Linked DNA regions of Homo sapiens: region 2 is linked to region 1. A link means that fine-mapping ties the variant in region 1 to the expression of a gene that starts in the linked region. Tissue or cell type: tibial artery. Region 1 holds a variant in brackets; the other region holds the start of a gene. All regions are shown on one strand. Distances are from middle to middle.

Evidence for each region. PIP is the estimated chance that this variant, and not a neighbour inherited with it, causes the effect.
Region 2: HGSNAT starts here. The variant in region 1 is fine-mapped to the expression of HGSNAT in tibial artery (GTEx, PIP 0.98). The same link has a PIP of 0.9 or more in thyroid.

The regions. Positions count from the first base shown.
Region 1 is chr8:42,964,517-42,972,516 of GRCh38, forward strand. It overlaps HOOK3 (hook microtubule tethering protein 3), which reads left to right. Exons shown (of 22, transcript NM_032410.4): 10 at 1,957-2,097; 11 at 3,497-3,698. Among named protein-coding and RNA genes, the nearest start is that of HOOK3, 72 kb to the left of the region's middle. The variant G/T (reference allele first, on the strand shown) is at 3,821.
Region 2 is chr8:43,135,387-43,143,528 of GRCh38, forward strand. HGSNAT (heparan-alpha-glucosaminide N-acetyltransferase) reads left to right here and starts at 5,078. Exons shown (of 18, transcript NM_152419.3): 1 at 5,078-5,228. The coding sequence starts at 5,111. RefSeq lists an enhancer at 3,740-4,034 and silencers at 4,878-5,667, 5,678-6,057.

The DNA.
Region 1 (8,000 bases):
AGCTGTCATTTAAAGTTAAGAGTATATTGGCCAGGCACATTGGTCCATGCCTGGAATCCCAGCACTTTGGGAGGCTGAGGCGGGCTGATCACTTGAGGTCGGGGATTCAAAATCAGCTTGGCTAACATGAGGAAACCCCATCTCTACTAAAAATACAAAAATTAGCCAGGCATGATGGCAGGTGCCTGTAATCCTAGCTACTCGGGAGGCTGAGAAATGAGAATCGCGTGAACTGGGGGTGTGGAGATTTCGGTGAGCCGAGATCGTGCCACTGCACCCCAGCCTGGGCAACAGAACGCGACTTTGTCTCAAAAAAAAAAAAGAAAAAAAAAATATAATGTTAGGACTTCTGGGAAACTGCAGTCCATTGAGGCTCCAAATAAACAACTCAGAATCTCCTCACACAACATGAAACTACTTCACGTCTAGGAAGTGTTCTATCAGAGCGCCACCCTCCTTATTGTTTGAAGGCAGAATGCCGCAACTATAGGATACCTGAGTGAGAGGGAGTACCCCACACCTGCCCCTCTGTGGGAAACAAAGGCGACTGAGGAAACTTTCAAGAAAGACCGAGGAAGAACATTTGTGAAGGGGCCTGAAGGCGAGTTGACATGATCACCAGAAAGATTAAATTTCACTGAAAATCTGAAATGACTTTGGTTTGGAAAAGTAATGGTCAGAGCAGACCATAAACCACAGATTAGGGATTTCAAAATAAGCACATCTTCGGGAAGGGCCAGATGACATGAAAAGTTACAGGCAGGGATTTTTAAAAGACAGATGCATTTATAGACTTATAGAAATCTATATACGTGTGTGTGTGTGTATGTGTGTGTTTATAGAGATAGACTTATTTAAAGGGGTGAGCTGATTTAAAAGGACAGGCGAGATTTAAAGGAACAATCTTCCAGACATCTTCTGTGGGAAGAAAAGCCCAAAAGGAAGGAAGAAGGGCCCTTTGACCTTTGGGTGGTGAAAGGAAAAAGAAGAAAAAGGAAAATATGTCCTGCAAGATAAGACGGAAGCACAAAATCGAAAGACAAGAGTATGATGAAAATATTTTGTTACGGTTTACTAAAAAGTGCGTCATCACTTGTTTCTTCCCTAGCCATAGATTTCTAGTGTTAAAACAGAAATTAAACATCAATTAGATTTTTACTTTACTGAGTAACTGAGTGTGGTAACATAACTATTCTTGTTATTCCTCAGTGAAATGTTTCTGGATTTTTTTTTTTCTTTTACCTTAACAGGAAAAAGTAATAAACTTTTCTTAGGCTCCTTAGAAACCTTAGAAACAGTCCATTCCCTTTGGTCCACGTCAGCAGTTCAAAGAATGGTCGAGGCTCCTGGAGGTCCTCTGATAACCATTTTGGAGAATCTGCAAGACCCTCTCTTTCCCGACTATGTGTCTGCAAGGCTGGATTTTCTTCATATGCTTCAGCCAAAAAACAACATGTCACCAACAGATGAATGTAGAAACAAATATGAGAACCCAGCTGTCTTCTATTAAAACAGATAATAGAATCACAAAAATATAAAACAGTGCCACTCTTCTCACTTTTTTTGTTTTAGAAAATAGTTATTTTTCATAAAGAGTATGTTGTTTTTATTAACATAATGGGTTTATTACTGTAATCCACTGTGCCAGACCATATGTGTTAATTTTATAATAAAAAAAGCCCTTAAATTGTATCTGCAATATTTCAGAAAAATGTTGCATGATGTCTTGCTTTCTGGTAGGGAAATAGTAACCAGTTGTCACCGTTCCCAAGACTTGGGACAGTGGAGTTCATTTTTATGACAGTTAGTGCTTGAGAATGCAGCTTGTGGCCACTAACATGGGAGACATACTCAAGAAGGCTTTATTCTCATGCTTTATATCTTTCTTTTACTGTTCTAAGGAGAATGAGGAGGCAGTAAATAGTGCTTTCTTGGTCTATTTTATATCGGTTACAGACTAGAAGCAGCCAAAGATGATTATCGAATACGTTGTGAAGAGTTAGAAAAGGAGATCTCTGAACTTCGGCAACAGAATGATGAACTGACCACTTTGGCAGATGAAGCTCAGTCTCTGAAAGATGAGATCGACGTGCTGAGGTAAAAACCTCACCTTCACCGCCCAGCACAGTTTGGCTCTGGTGTTAGAAACTCTAGGGTTTCTGAGGATCTAGCAAACTTAAGAGCCAGGCTACCTGGGCTGGGATCCCGGGTCTACTGCTTATGCAACCTCTGTATGGCTGTTTTCTCATCTGCAAAATGGAAACAATACACATGCCTACCTCAGGTTTATATGAGGAGTTGAGTGAATTTATATTTGTAAACACTTGCAACAGTGTCTGGCAATTAAGCGATACACAAGTGTTTGTAAAATAGAAATTGTGACCATCACTTCTTACTTGTACAGCTCTGGAGCTGTTCTTCCGCCACGCCCGCAAGGCCTCATTTTCTTGCTGGGCCTTGTTATTACCCCTTCAGTTCTCTCATGAGGTGCCTCACTCCCTGTCACCTCATTTTTTCACCCCTCTGCTTGTACAGTCTCCTATCCTCTGTTGATTATCTCAACCATCTACATTTTCCACTTTTGCTCTTTGAATACTGAGAACAGGGGAAATGCATAATTGATAGTTTTGTGCTCCTGCCAATTGGTGGCTTCCTTCTGAGCTGGGTTCTTCCCAATGGCCCGCCCTCCCCTTGCTCATTGTCTCACTCATAGCCATTCTGATTCCTCAGGATTCTACTCCCCGGCTGCCCTCCACACACACCTCCCATGACTTAGTCTCAATAGATGACCTTGTCTCCTATAGCAGCGAAGAAAGAGGCCGTGAACTGCTGAACTCTCCATGTCTTTTGTCTCCAAAACCTCTAAACTTCCCTGGGTTCCCACCCACCCTTTCTTTAGTGAGTGTAGACCTGTTATTCTTCCTCCTGTTCAGGGCTAATTCCTTCTTCAGTGTTCTGGACCTCTACCTTTCTGGCCTACGCGGGGACTGTGTTACATCAATCCTCATTTCTTTTGCCTTTTGAATCTCTCTCCTTCATACACATGCACACGCGCATTTAGGTCTCTTTAATCTTAAAAAGAGAGGGAGTTATTACTCTCTCCTTCCCACTAGAACCAAACTTAGATTACATAAGGTAAAATTGACATTCTCTCCTCAACCCCACTATCTGCCCACACTACCCCACTGAAGCTGCTATTCTGGTGGTCACTGATAATTGCCAAATTATTCGGACACTGTTAAACTTACTTTTCTTTTGTGCCACATGTGACTCTGCTGGCTGCCCTCTCCTGCTTGGTTTCCTTAAATTATTATTCTCCATTAAACATTTAGTTGTAACTTAGGTCATATTTGTTAACCTGTGCAGAAAATTAACCTGGAATCACTTTTGTCTTATTTCATTAGATGTGTGTTTCCTGGCAATCCTTCTTAACACTGAAACAACTTTACAAGTGTGGATGTGTTTCTGATTTTTTTAATTTCCCATCTAATTCTAGACATTCTTCTGATAAAGTATCTAAACTAGAAGGTCAAGTAGAATCTTATAAAAAGAAGCTAGAAGACCTTGGTGATTTAAGGCGGCAGGTTAAACTCTTAGAAGAGAAGAATACCATGTATATGCAGAATACTGTCAGTCTAGAGGAAGAGTTAAGAAAGGCCAACGCAGCGCGAAGTCAACTTGAAACCTACAAGAGACAGGTAAAAGAAACACAGCATCTTGATGATGGTTTCAGGCAAGCTCTCAGTTATGACATGTAGCTTACCAAAATTACTAATTTGTTTTCATGGTATTCTGTTTTTTACCTTTTCTTTATTGTATT[G/T]ATTCATTTAGGAGACTGAGTCTCACTCTGTCACCCAGCCTGGAGTGCAGTGGCATGATCTCAGCTCACTGCAACCTCCACCTCCCAGGTTCAAGCTATTCTTCTGCCCCAGCCTCCTGAGTAGCTGGAACTACAGACGCATGCTGCCACACCTGGCTAATTTTTTGTATTTTGGTAAAGACAGGGTTTCACTGTGTTGCCCAGGCTGGTCTTGTACTCCTGAGCTCAAGTGATCCACCAGCCTCAGCCTTCCAAAGTGCTAGGATTACAAGCGTGAGCCACTGTGAGCCACCATGCCTGGCCTATTGTATTTATTTATATTTATCTAATATTTAAAGAGCTTTAAACTCTCCATAGCAGGTACTTTTATTTTATTTACTTATTTTTATTTAGTTAGTTATTTATTAGGTAATACTTAAGAAATATACAAATGTAAAAGCATAGTTCAGTAAATATTCATGCTTGAATAAAACATGCTCTCCCCCTCCTCGTTACAGGCAGCCTCCATGCTGCGGCTTTCATTCCCATTCGTCTCTCTATACTTTTGCTACATATATATATTTATCCCTAAAAATTTATAGCACTTTGACATGTTCCAGAACTTTATATAAATGATACAGTGAAAGCACTCTTTGTAATTTTTTTTTCTTTTGCTCAGTGAGACTTGTTTATCATGATAGGTATAGCTTTATAACATTCATTTCTGCTGCTCTCTCAGTTAGTCTCTGTACCAAAATTTATCTATTTTCCTGTTAAGAGACCTACAGGATGTTTCAGCTTTTTTTTCTATGTTAAAAGAAATGCCATATAAATAGTATTGTACAGGTCCTCTACTATATATGTGTGAAGGTTTTACAACTTGATGGACTTTCTGTCTAAGAGTATCTTCAATGTAGTTAGATATTAGCAGATTGTTCCTTAAAGTGATTGTGCTACCAACAAGCAGTTTATATTCCTGTTGCTTCACATCATCACCAGCACACAGTATTGGCAAACTAAATTTTGCTGGCCTGGCACAGTGTCTCACGCCTGTAATCTCAACACTTTGGGAGGCTGAGGCAGGAGAGTGGCTTGAGCCCAGGAGTTCCAAACCAACCTGGGAAACATAGCAAGACCCCATCTCTAAAAATAACTTTAAGTTAGCTGGGCATGGTGGCATGAACCTGTGGTCCCAGCTATTTGGGAGGATGAGGTTGAAGAATCGCTTGAGCCTGGGCCTCAGAGGCTACAGTGAGCTATGATTGCACCACTGCATTCCAGCTTTGCTTTTGTGCCGCATGTGACTCTGCTGGCAACATGAGACATGTAAGACCTTGTCTTGAGAAAAGAAAAATAAGTAAAATTTGCCAATTAGATGGGTATAAAATGGTGTCTCCTTTTAATTATACTTCATGTTACCCTGATTACAAATATATTTACTGACCATATTTCTTTTGTAAATTTCCTATTTTTATCTTTTACCCACTTAAAAAATTGAATCATTTCTTTTACTGATTTCTAAAGGTTGTTTATATGTTCTAGATGTTCTTTATCACTTGCACATATTTTTACTTAATCTCCTATGGATCTATGACTTGTCCTTTTACTTTTTTGAGGTTGATAATTTCAGCATAATGAACTTAAAGTACTTTTATGATTTGTACTTTTTATATTTTAAGAAATTATTTCCTATATAAGGTTATAGTCTAATCTTCTCTATTTTCTTTACAAAGATTTAAAGTTTGTTTTGCACATTTAGGTATTTAATCCACTTGGAATTAATTTTTGTGTAGGGTGTGAAGTAGGGATCCCTTTGAGACTCTTTTTGTCTGTGTGGATAACCAGTCAGCCTACCACCATTTATTTAATAGTCCTTTCTTCCACAATGACCTGCAATTCTACCTTGTATATCTAAAATATCCATGTTGTATATGGGTTTATTTCTGGACACTTTCTTCTGTTCCCTTGGTATATTTATCTCTTCCTACACCAATATCACACTCATGTTTTACAAATTTTTAGCAATTTTGATAGGTGGTAGTGCAGACTCTCATACTTTGTCCTTTTTCAAAAGTGTCTGTTCTCAGCCCTTTGCTTTCCCTTTAAACTCCAAACTCTTGGGAATTGGAATTACATTGACTGTCGATCAATTTGGGGAGAGCTGTTTCTGTCTGAACATGATACCTTTCCGTGGTCTTCCATGTCTTTGGGTTAAGTTTATTAATGTTCTTCTAAAGATTTTGTGCATATTTCATTGTAGTTACTGTTGGGTACTTTTGTGTTTGGGGTTGCTTTTTAAATGCAGTTAGATAGATTCCATTTTCACTTTATTGCTAATTTATATGAATGAAATTGACTTTTATATGTTGATTCTGCAACCTTGCCAAATTCTCATATTACTTCTGATAATGTCTGTAGATTCTCTTGTCAGAAGGGATATAGTAAAGAAATAAAAGGAATTTGGGTCTTTTTTTTTTTTTTTTTTTTTCTGAGACAGGGTTTCACTCTGTCATCCAGGCTAGAGTGCAGTGGTGCAGTCATGGCTCACTGCAGCCTCGACCCCCCAGGCTCAGGTGATCCTTCCATCTCAGCCTGCCAAATAGCTAGGACCACAAGTGTGTGCCGCCACACTCAGCTAATTTTGTAATTTTTGTAGAATTGGGGTTTCTCCATGTTGCCCAGGCCGGTCTCAAATACCTGGGCTCAAGACATCCTCCTGCCTCGGCCTCCCAAAGTGCTGGGATTATAGGTGTGAGCCGCTGCACCCAGCCCAATTTCTCCCTTTCTATTCCATATCCTTTTTTTTCTTCTTAATCAGCATAACTGGACTTCAGTACAACTTGGAGTAAAAATAATGGTGGGAAAGCATTCCTTGTTGATTACATACAGAATGTTTTATTTTGCCAGTATATTACAAAGATTGCTATATGTTGTGTGTTTTTTGTTTTTGTTTTTGTTTTCTGGAGACAGAGTCAGAGTCTCGCTCTGTCGCTCAGGCTAGAGTGCAGTGGTGCGATCTCAGCTTATCGCAACCTCCACCTCCCAGGTTCAAGCGATTCTCCTGCCTCAGCCTCCCGAGTAGCTGGGATTACAGGCACCTGCCACCATGCCTGGCTAATTTTTGTGTATTTTTAGTAGAGACAGGGTGTCACTATGTTGGCCAGGCTGGTCTTGAACTTCTGACTTCAGGTGATCCACCTGCCTTGGCCTCCCAAAGTGCTGGGATTACAGGCGTGAGCCACTGTGCCTGGCCACTTTATTTTTTAAATGATAATATTTCATCTACAAGCCTTCTTTGTGTGCTTTTTCAAATCTCCCTGGTTATTTTTGATGGTCTCTTACTCCTTTTTGTTTTTTATTTTATTAATTAATTTATTTATTTTGAGGCAGAGTCTGGCTCTGTGGCCCAGGTTGGAGTGCAGTGGTGCAATCTCAGCTCACTGCAACCTCCACCTCCCGGGTTCAAGCAATTCTCCTGCCACAGTCTCCCGAGTAGCTGGGATTACAGGAGTGCACCACCAAGCCCGGCTAAATTTTCATATTTTAGTGGATACAGGGTTTCACCATGTTGCCCCCAGGGTGATCTGGAACTTCTGAGCTCAGGCAATCTGCCCACCTCAGTCACCCAAAGTGCTAGGCTTACAGGTGTGAGCCGCCGTGCCTGGCCTCTTAACTCCTTTTAAAATTTAGATTTCCTCTTTACTTTTTTAAGTATGTATATTTTGTATCTGATAATTCCAATCTGAAATCCTTGGAGATCTTATTCTGTTATTTTTTGGTTGTTATTGCTGTTAATGTTTTCCATAGAGTCTTGTTCGTTGTGGCATTTTCTTTATGGCCTTTGTAATTTTGGATTTTGCTCTTTCATTAGCTCATCTTTACATTGGGGAATCCTGAGGCTCATGGGTTGAGGTTTTGTTTCTGTGGTCAATATGTGTGTTTGTTTATGGCAGATTTTCCACAGCATTACCAGCTAATACCCCTCTAATTGCTTGGCTTAGGTTTTCCCAGACAATGCAAGTAGTAAAAATTCAAACACAAGTCCATGTATTATTAACAGGCTGTCATTACAAACTTCCAAGTTACCCCTTTTTTCTTTCTTACTTTTTTTTTAAAGACAGGATCTCACTCTGTTTCCTAGGCTGGAGTGCAATGGTATGATCATAGCTCACTGCAATCTTGAACTCCTGGGCTCAAGTGA
Region 2 (8,142 bases), 170 kb after region 1:
CATGTTGCCCAGGCTGGTCCCTAACTCCTGACCTCATGATCCACCCGCTTCAGCCTCCCAAAGTGCTTGGGATTACAGGTGTGAGCCACCACGCCCAGCCAAATGTGTTTTTTTGTAAAAGGTTATAAGAAGGCATGGAAATGTAAATTTTTGCCTAGGGTTAAAGGATTGTTTTAAATTAGGATGAAGTTGCAGGTTCAAACAAGTGGTGGAAGCATTGTGGAAATTAATCTTGCAAAGGGGTTTTCTATGTGAACATATTGACTAAATTTCAAAGGGTATTATATGATTTTTCTGTAAATTGAGCATTGAAATAAAAGCACAACAAGGTATTCTTAAGGCACTGATCTGCTCTTCAGCAAAATTTGTAAGGGGTTATAAAAGATTTTTGCTTCTTTAAAATTTCTGAGTCATCATTTTGGCAAAATAAATAACTTATGGTAATCTGGAATTCTGTTTCATAACATCAAGTGCTTTAAACCTCGAACATATTTAACAGCCTTCCCAAATCAAACTTCAGTTTCAAAATTGTCTTTCCTGATGTTTGGCTTTTTGGACCGTTTGGAGTGCCCCTGAAATATCCAAGAAATAGGTAAACAGGATCATTTGACATGTTTAGGTACATGGGATTGCCAAAATGATGTTCAGTTTTCTTTAGGTTATATTTTTGTGAATAATGCTAATGTATGTTCCAAAATTATATGGGATTTCTAAAACTCTAATGTCTAAGTATATGCTATCAACCATAATTAAGGTTGTTAAGTTATTGTAAACCACAGAGATAGCCAAACTTCTTTGTCAATTGTGTTTCTAACTGCAACTAACCTGGACATTTGGCTAGTCACAGACAATTGTTGTCTTGTTTTAATCATTTTCAAAAGATGGTTTATAATAAGCAATAGGACTCTGGCAGGTACTCTCAAATACAGGTTTCTGATAACTTTGGAGATTGTCACATTGGAATAAAGGCAAATGTACAGGATTCATAAAGAGCTGAAGTGTTCACGAATATCAAGCAAAACAAGAACTAAATGGACTGAACTCAAAGCTGAAGCAAACTTTTTGACTTTTGCTGGGAATATTGTTGATCCTTGTTTTGTTTTTCAGAGTCAGGGAAACTTATTTTAAACTATTTATGGTCTTTAATAATTGACTGAGGTATACTCCTGTGGACAAGATTTGGAGCATGCTTGTTTCTCTTTGCCTGGTTCCTTTTTTTTTGTGGACAGACTGTTACTCTTTCGCCCAGGCTGGACTACAGTGGAGGGATCTTGGCCCACTGCAACCTCCGCTTCCCTGGCTCAAGCGATTCTCCTGCCACAGCCTCCTGAGTAGCTGGGACTACAGGCGCGGGCCACCATGCCCAGGTAGTTTTTGTATTTTTAGTAGAGATGGGGTTTCACTATGTTGTCCAGCCTGGTCTCGAACTCCTGACCTCAAGTGATCTGCCTGCCTTGGCCTTCCAAAGTATTGGGATTAGCTGTGAGCCACTGCGCCCGGCCTGGTTCCTCTAGAATCTGGAAACTATCTGTGAGTATTTTTAACTTGTGGCAATATAGTTGTCTGGATCGGTGTGATAGGAATCCATTTATCTTTTGTTAACAAGACGCAATTGGAAAAACTGGTTATTTTCCCGAGGCTTTCACTGGAAGGCTATGCTTCTGTTTAAAGAATCAATCTCGACTTGCAGGGCCAATAAAAGCCCAGTGGGGAAGTTGGCCTCATACTCTTGTCTACACAGTCCCTGTACAGGGTTCCTGACCTGTGGTCAGTAAAGAATGTCACTTGCTAACAGGTCCAGGAGCTCCAAGTTTATCCTGGGACCTTAAGAGGAGAGGATCACCCAACCCAAGGTGTATCATGGGAACTTAAGAGGAGAGGATTAGCCCAGTTCATGGCTGGGCTTGGCTTTATCTTATCTGAGATTCCTTGTGGAACAGAGTTCCATCAAAGCCAGTCCAAAAGGCCTTTGTAGAAATAATTATTCTTGCTGCACTTTATGTAAATAATCAGGCCAAGTATAAGACTGAAGTCTATTTTGCAAACAACTGAGTCCTATCATAATTTCTTTTCTTTTCTTTCTTTTCTTTTTTTTTTTTTTAACAAAAACGAGGCCTGGAGAAAAATTATGTTCCAAAACTTACCATAATTTGTCATTCAATTCTAAACTCAGTTGTTTTTAAATTTTTGCCTGCATTTTTAGACTGACCCTGCTTGTGAACCAACCAGCAATCTCCAGCTGCAGCTCAGAAAGAACAAGAGGGATGGGTAATGTAAAAAAATCTGGATTAGTATTCTAGTTATGAGCAATTATCCTGCAAATTCTGCTAGGCAATGGGAATAAATAGGGTGCCCATCATCCAGAGGTTTCCTTTTGGGAAAGTAAGACCAAGGGAGCTAACCAAAGCCAAGCACCATGCACCCAAATCCTACCAAACATAACTGTAGCCACCAGTTATCTGGGTGTGTCACAAGACATCCTTTTCTCTCCCTTGTTGGAGGACTCAGTTCCACAGTTTTTCCTTAGCATTTGGCTTACGAGAAGGAGTCCATGCAACCCCTCAACCCCTGAGCATAAGTGAGGTCTAGGGAACTCCAAGACTACTGACAGCAGGGGTGATAGGGCATTCATGGGTAGAGGAGATAATTCCCACCCTCTAGACCCCTGCTTCATGGATGCAAGCCATTTTGGCACCCATGGTAGCACTTTCGAAGGTTGCATGGGGATGCAAGGATGGAAGAGGACGCTATTCCTTCTATCCCTCACGTACCCCAGGTATTTGCTAGGAAAAGAACCAGGGATGCCTGCTCCCCTCTTTCTATGTGGGTAGCCATTTATCTTCAGTCTGCACCACTTTCAAATGCATCTGGAACCCTTCGGATTCCTTTGAAAAAATGCCTTCTTTTTTCCTTTCTCCTCCTCGGTTCACAATGACAATCCTAATTGTGTCTCCATACTATGGGACACTCCCCTCAGATGCATTTTCCAAACTGGAAAGAGTTAATTTCCTAAACCTTAAACTGGCTGGCTTAGGATTGGTTTCAGGGGAAGGGAACCCAGAAGCCCAACATGCCAGCAAAAGGGTAAAGTTGTTTACCATTCGGACTTTTGGCCCCCTTCTCCGTGTACAAATTGGTAAAAAGCCTCAGGATTTTTGAGCTGTCCTTATCCCTCCCCTTGTTTCTTTTCTTTTCTTTTTTTTTTTGAGACAGGGTCTCACTCTGTCGCCCAGGCTGGAGTGCAGTGATGTGGTCTTGGCTCACTGCAACCTCCGTTCAAACGATTCTCCTGCCTCAACCTCCTAAGTAGCTGGGAGTACAGGCAGGCACCACCACTGCTGGCTAATTTTTGTATTTTTAGTAGAGACAGGGTTTCACCATGTTGGCCAGGCTGGTCTTGAACTCCTGACCTGCCAGGCTGGAGTGCAGTGGCATAATCTTGGCTCACTGCAAACTCTGCCTCCCGGATTCAAGTGATTCTCCTGCCTCAGCCTCCCAAGTAGCTGGGACTACAGGTACTTGCCATGACGCCCGGCTAATTTTTTGTATTTTTAGTAGTGACAGGGTTTCACCATGTTGGCCAGGATGGTCTCGATTTCTTGACCTCGTGATCCACCTGCCTTGGCCTCCCAAAGTGCTGGGATTACAGGCGTGAGCCACTGTGCCCGGCCATATGTGTTTAATAACCCAGTTTGTCTCTTCTTGCCTTCAGGACATCAAACGGTCATGCTACTGGAAGCTCGGACCATGGCCCCTTCTGCTGGGCACCCTTAGATAGGCCTCTGAGGGAGATCTGATTGCCATTTTCCCGAAACAGTGCCCCCTATCAGCAGGAAGCAGTTAAGATCTGTCTTTGTCCCTATTCTTATCCTAGTGGCAGTTAGATAGACTTCTTTAGAGCGAGGAATGAGCCAGATGGGAAGGGTTCCCTGGTAAAACTCCAACTGGCCTGTGCACTGCTCTGGGGTGGAGCCACAGAAGTTCGCTCCTCAGTTTGCAGCTGGGAGGAGCCTGGCCCTCCTCTTCCTCGGGAGAACCTGGGATTTAATCTGTGAGGTGGGAAGCCTACAACTAGGAGAACTCTGGCTCTGCTGAGTCCCTGTTCCCCTTTTTCTTCCTTTACACCCAATAAAACCCTGCCTTACCCTTCAAATTGTCTGCGAGCCTAATCTTTCCTGGCGTGTGACAAGGACCTCCACCGTCTTTAGCTGAACTAAGGAAAAGTCCCGCAACATTTTCATGTGTGCCTTTGTATTTTTATTACATATATGGATGTCCCTAAACAACATACATTATTGTTTTGCTTTATATATTAAAAAGGCATTCTGCAATTTGCATTTTCCCCAGCCTTGTGTTTTGAGATTTATCCATGTGGATGCGGGAAGCTGTAGAGCACTTCCCCTGCTGTGGGGCAGTTTGTTTTCTCGCTGGCGGACATTCAGCTTGTTGACAAGGTTTTGCAATTACAAGCACCTCTGCTATAGGTATTACTGTACCTGTCCCTTATACCTGCGATAGTGTCTCCCGGCATACAGCCAAGAATGGGTGTGCACACTCCTCGACCTGCTCCCTTCCACTTCGTCAGCCTGGCCGGGGGCTCTTTCAAGAGGTGGGGCCGCTTGGTGGCTTCTAAGTCGTGCCTCTCCCTCTGGGTAATAAACGCCTTGGGGGCAGGGACTTTGCAGTCTTGCTTATTGAGGCGTTTTCCAAAACAGGGACCGAGGGCTCTAACACCCGTGCGGAGGGTGGCCGGCGGGGGCGGGAGTTTGGCAGAATGCGGCTGGAGAAGGTGGGGCGAGGGAAGAAGGCTCCTGGCCTGCAGGGGCCTCTCTTCCGGCTGTTTTTCCTCCCGAAGACAAACACTCCCAACGCAGGGGCGCAGAGCCTCGGCTTCTTTCCTGGCCAGCTCCCTCAAGGCAGGGCCTAGCATGGCCCGGCCCAGCCCCTAGGTTCCCCCGCCCGCGGCTCCCGGGCGCCTCCGCCTCCCGCGGTGACTCAGGCGGCGGTGACGGCAGCGGAGGGGGCGATGACGGGCGCGCGGGCGTCCGCGGCGGAGCAGCGCAGGGCGGGGCGCAGCGGGCAGGCAAGGGCGGCCGAGCGGGCGGCGGGCATGAGCGGGGCGGGCAGGGCGCTGGCCGCGCTGCTGCTGGCCGCGTCCGTGCTGAGCGCCGCGCTGCTGGCCCCCGGCGGCTCTTCGGGGCGCGATGCCCAGGCCGCGCCGCCACGAGGTGAGTGCACACCTCCTACCGCCGCCCGGCCGGCTACGAGCGCAGCGTCTCCTCTCCGCGGCGCCGCCCCTATCTCCGTGCGCGGCGCCGAGCGCTAGGCCGGGCCGGAACCGCCCCCGTGGCCTGGGCTGTTGCTGCGACTTCGCGGTCCCGCGCCCCAGACCGGAGGCCGGACTTCGGGGTGCTGCGGCCGGGCCCCGCGGAGGCGGGGGAGGGGGCGGTTCGGACCGCGGCGGAGTGGAACCTGGGCGCCCAGGCGGCGCCCACCCCAGCGGAGCCTGCGTCCTGGCGCCTTCCGTCTAAACAGAGGCCGCGGATCGGGACGCCGGGACCCCACAAACTGGCAGCCAGGAGGCGGGCCAGCCGAGGATCGGGGGGGCTCGGACTCCCCCTGCACCCAGTCCACTGTTCGGAGGGACTTAGAGCAGGGTCCCTTCCCTGAGGGCCTCGCCCCCGAGGACGTGGCGCCGGAGCCGTGCGACCCATTGGCTTCAGCGGGTGGGAAGCCTGGGGCCGGGACGCGCGTTCGCCCCGCGCTGGGGTTGAACCTGCGTGGATGTGCGGCGGGTGAGGAACCGCGGAGAAGGCGGTGGGGGCGCGGCCTGCAGCCCGGTCCCGGGCGAGCCCTCCGCGCGTCTCCCCTCGGCGCGTTTTCCCTCCAGGGTGACTGGGAAGCCGCCGCCGCCGCCGCCGCCGCCTGGGAGGGGCCGGGCTGGGCGCTTTTGCCCCGGGCCCCGGACCCCGGGCGTTTGTCCGGTGCGCTGGCTTAAGAGGCGCTCAGCTCATACCGTGATTGCACAACTGGCTTGCTCTCCGAACTCGGTGGGGAAAACGGTGACAAATACAGATTCCAGGTCTCCATCTAGACCCCTGCACCGGGGAGCCCCAGGCCCTAGGTCCTTCGCACACGCCCCTCCCAGAGGGGTCGGGCAAGCATCGCAAACCCCTTTGGGTAGGAGGGACGGTGGGAGTCACCTGTCTTTCCCCTCTCGCGCCCTTTTCTTGGTCAGAATACGAAGTTTTAGTGTCTGTGTATGGAGTTCAAACGACCCCTCCTCTCCAAGCAGAAGCTGGAGGAGAAAGGCGTTGTGAATTTTGGAAAAGCGGCTCAGAGGATTACATTTTGTGCGATCCTTGATCCACCCAACCTTCATCTCCTGCGCTCCCCTCCTTTAAAATTGCAAGGACCCCGGGGAGGTTATGTAATCTGCCTGATCACAATTTGTCAGGGACTGATCCCGCCGAACACTCTTTGCATTTTAGCGCCAGTATTAGCTTATCAAAGGGCACTTACTTTTAGAGAGAGGTGGTTTGTAAATAGTAATCACACGTAGTGAGGGGAAGCCGCGTTGGGACCGCAAGGCTTTCCCTGTCACCTGGAGCCCATGTTTGGGCCGCACAGCTTTCCTACTAAAAACGTCATCATCTTCCTTCTTTTTGAAAATTCAGCATTTGCTTGAAGAAAAAAAAAAGTAGACTATGTCTTTAAAAATATGCCCAGCAAAGATAACTCACGAGCAGAGAGCTAGACCAGAAATTAAATATTTGGAAAGGAAATAAAGGTGTAATACACAAGCAGCACATTTATCCCCGCACCATTGGAAGGTGACTTTATTTGGTAATTTGCCCACCAAGACGAGGTAGACCAGAGGAGAGAGAAGGAAATAATTGTTCTTTTGTCTGTAACGCTCTGGGGGTATTGCCCTGGAATTTCTTAGGTCAGCTGCTGTGTGGGAAGGTGACAGCTTTTTCTTGAAGCTGAACATCAAGCTCAGTTTCGAGGTCATATTTGATGACTTATTTGATGGCTTAGTAATTGGGTCCTTTGGTCGTGTCTGTAAGTGATACAGACTGTTATTATTATTTTTAAAAACCACATTCAAATAATGCAAAGTGAAAAAAAAAGGTGTCAAAATCCGCTGGCGTTACTCTGACAGTCTCTAGCTGTGGTTCCCTAGCTGTGGTCTTCACCCTCGGCTGCACACTCGAATCCCTTTGGGAGGTTCGTTGTTTTTTGTGGGAAATTAAAAAAATCATGCTGATTGGGCAGAGATTCTGATTTAATTGGTCTGGAATGGGGCCAGGGCATTGGTAACTTTTGTAGTTTTTTTAGAGCTTCCTCAGGTAATTTTGACATTCAATGAAGACTGAGCCCCTCTGCACATTCCCAAATAGCATAGTTAGTAACAATGACAATGAAGAGCTTTCAGCCTAAAATTCGTGTGGATAATCTAAGTATAAAACAAGTACCTTATTCCGCCCACCACCAAAGGCTTAGAGAAACATGAGTACACACAGTACTTATTCCATCTACGAAGGGATGATGATGTGTGGAGAAATTACGAAGGAAAAGCTCATGGCTTCATGGTCTCTTGGGTATGATCAAGTGTAGGAAAAAGTCTACAGAGAGTGACTAGAAATGTGAAAATGGAAGCCATTAAAACTGAAGAAGGGAAATGAAAAAGAACTATTTTAAAACGATGACAAATTGACAAAGGATTTAATATTTTTGTCTTTAATGTAGAGAAGTTATGCAAATACCTCAGAAGGTGTCAGGGATTAAATAAAGGTGGTTAAATAAATAAATGATTCAGGAATTAATATGAAAGTCACATACTGATGGTAAACATTTGGAAAACATGTTCAAACTTGTTAATCACAAATTCAAAACTAAAATAATTAGGACGTGCCATTTTCTATCCACCAGGCTAACATATGAGGGAAACATGGAAAGGCTAATCTGGCTGGGCTTATAGGGAGGGATCTGTTGAGGCTCAGGAGACTGGTTAGCCGTTATGTGCACAGTTAGACTGACCTCAGCTTAAATCCTGGCTGCTAGTAGGTGACTTTGGGCAAGCTGCTTGACCTCTTCAGGCCTCAGATGCCTCATCCCAAAATGGAGACACCAGGAGCT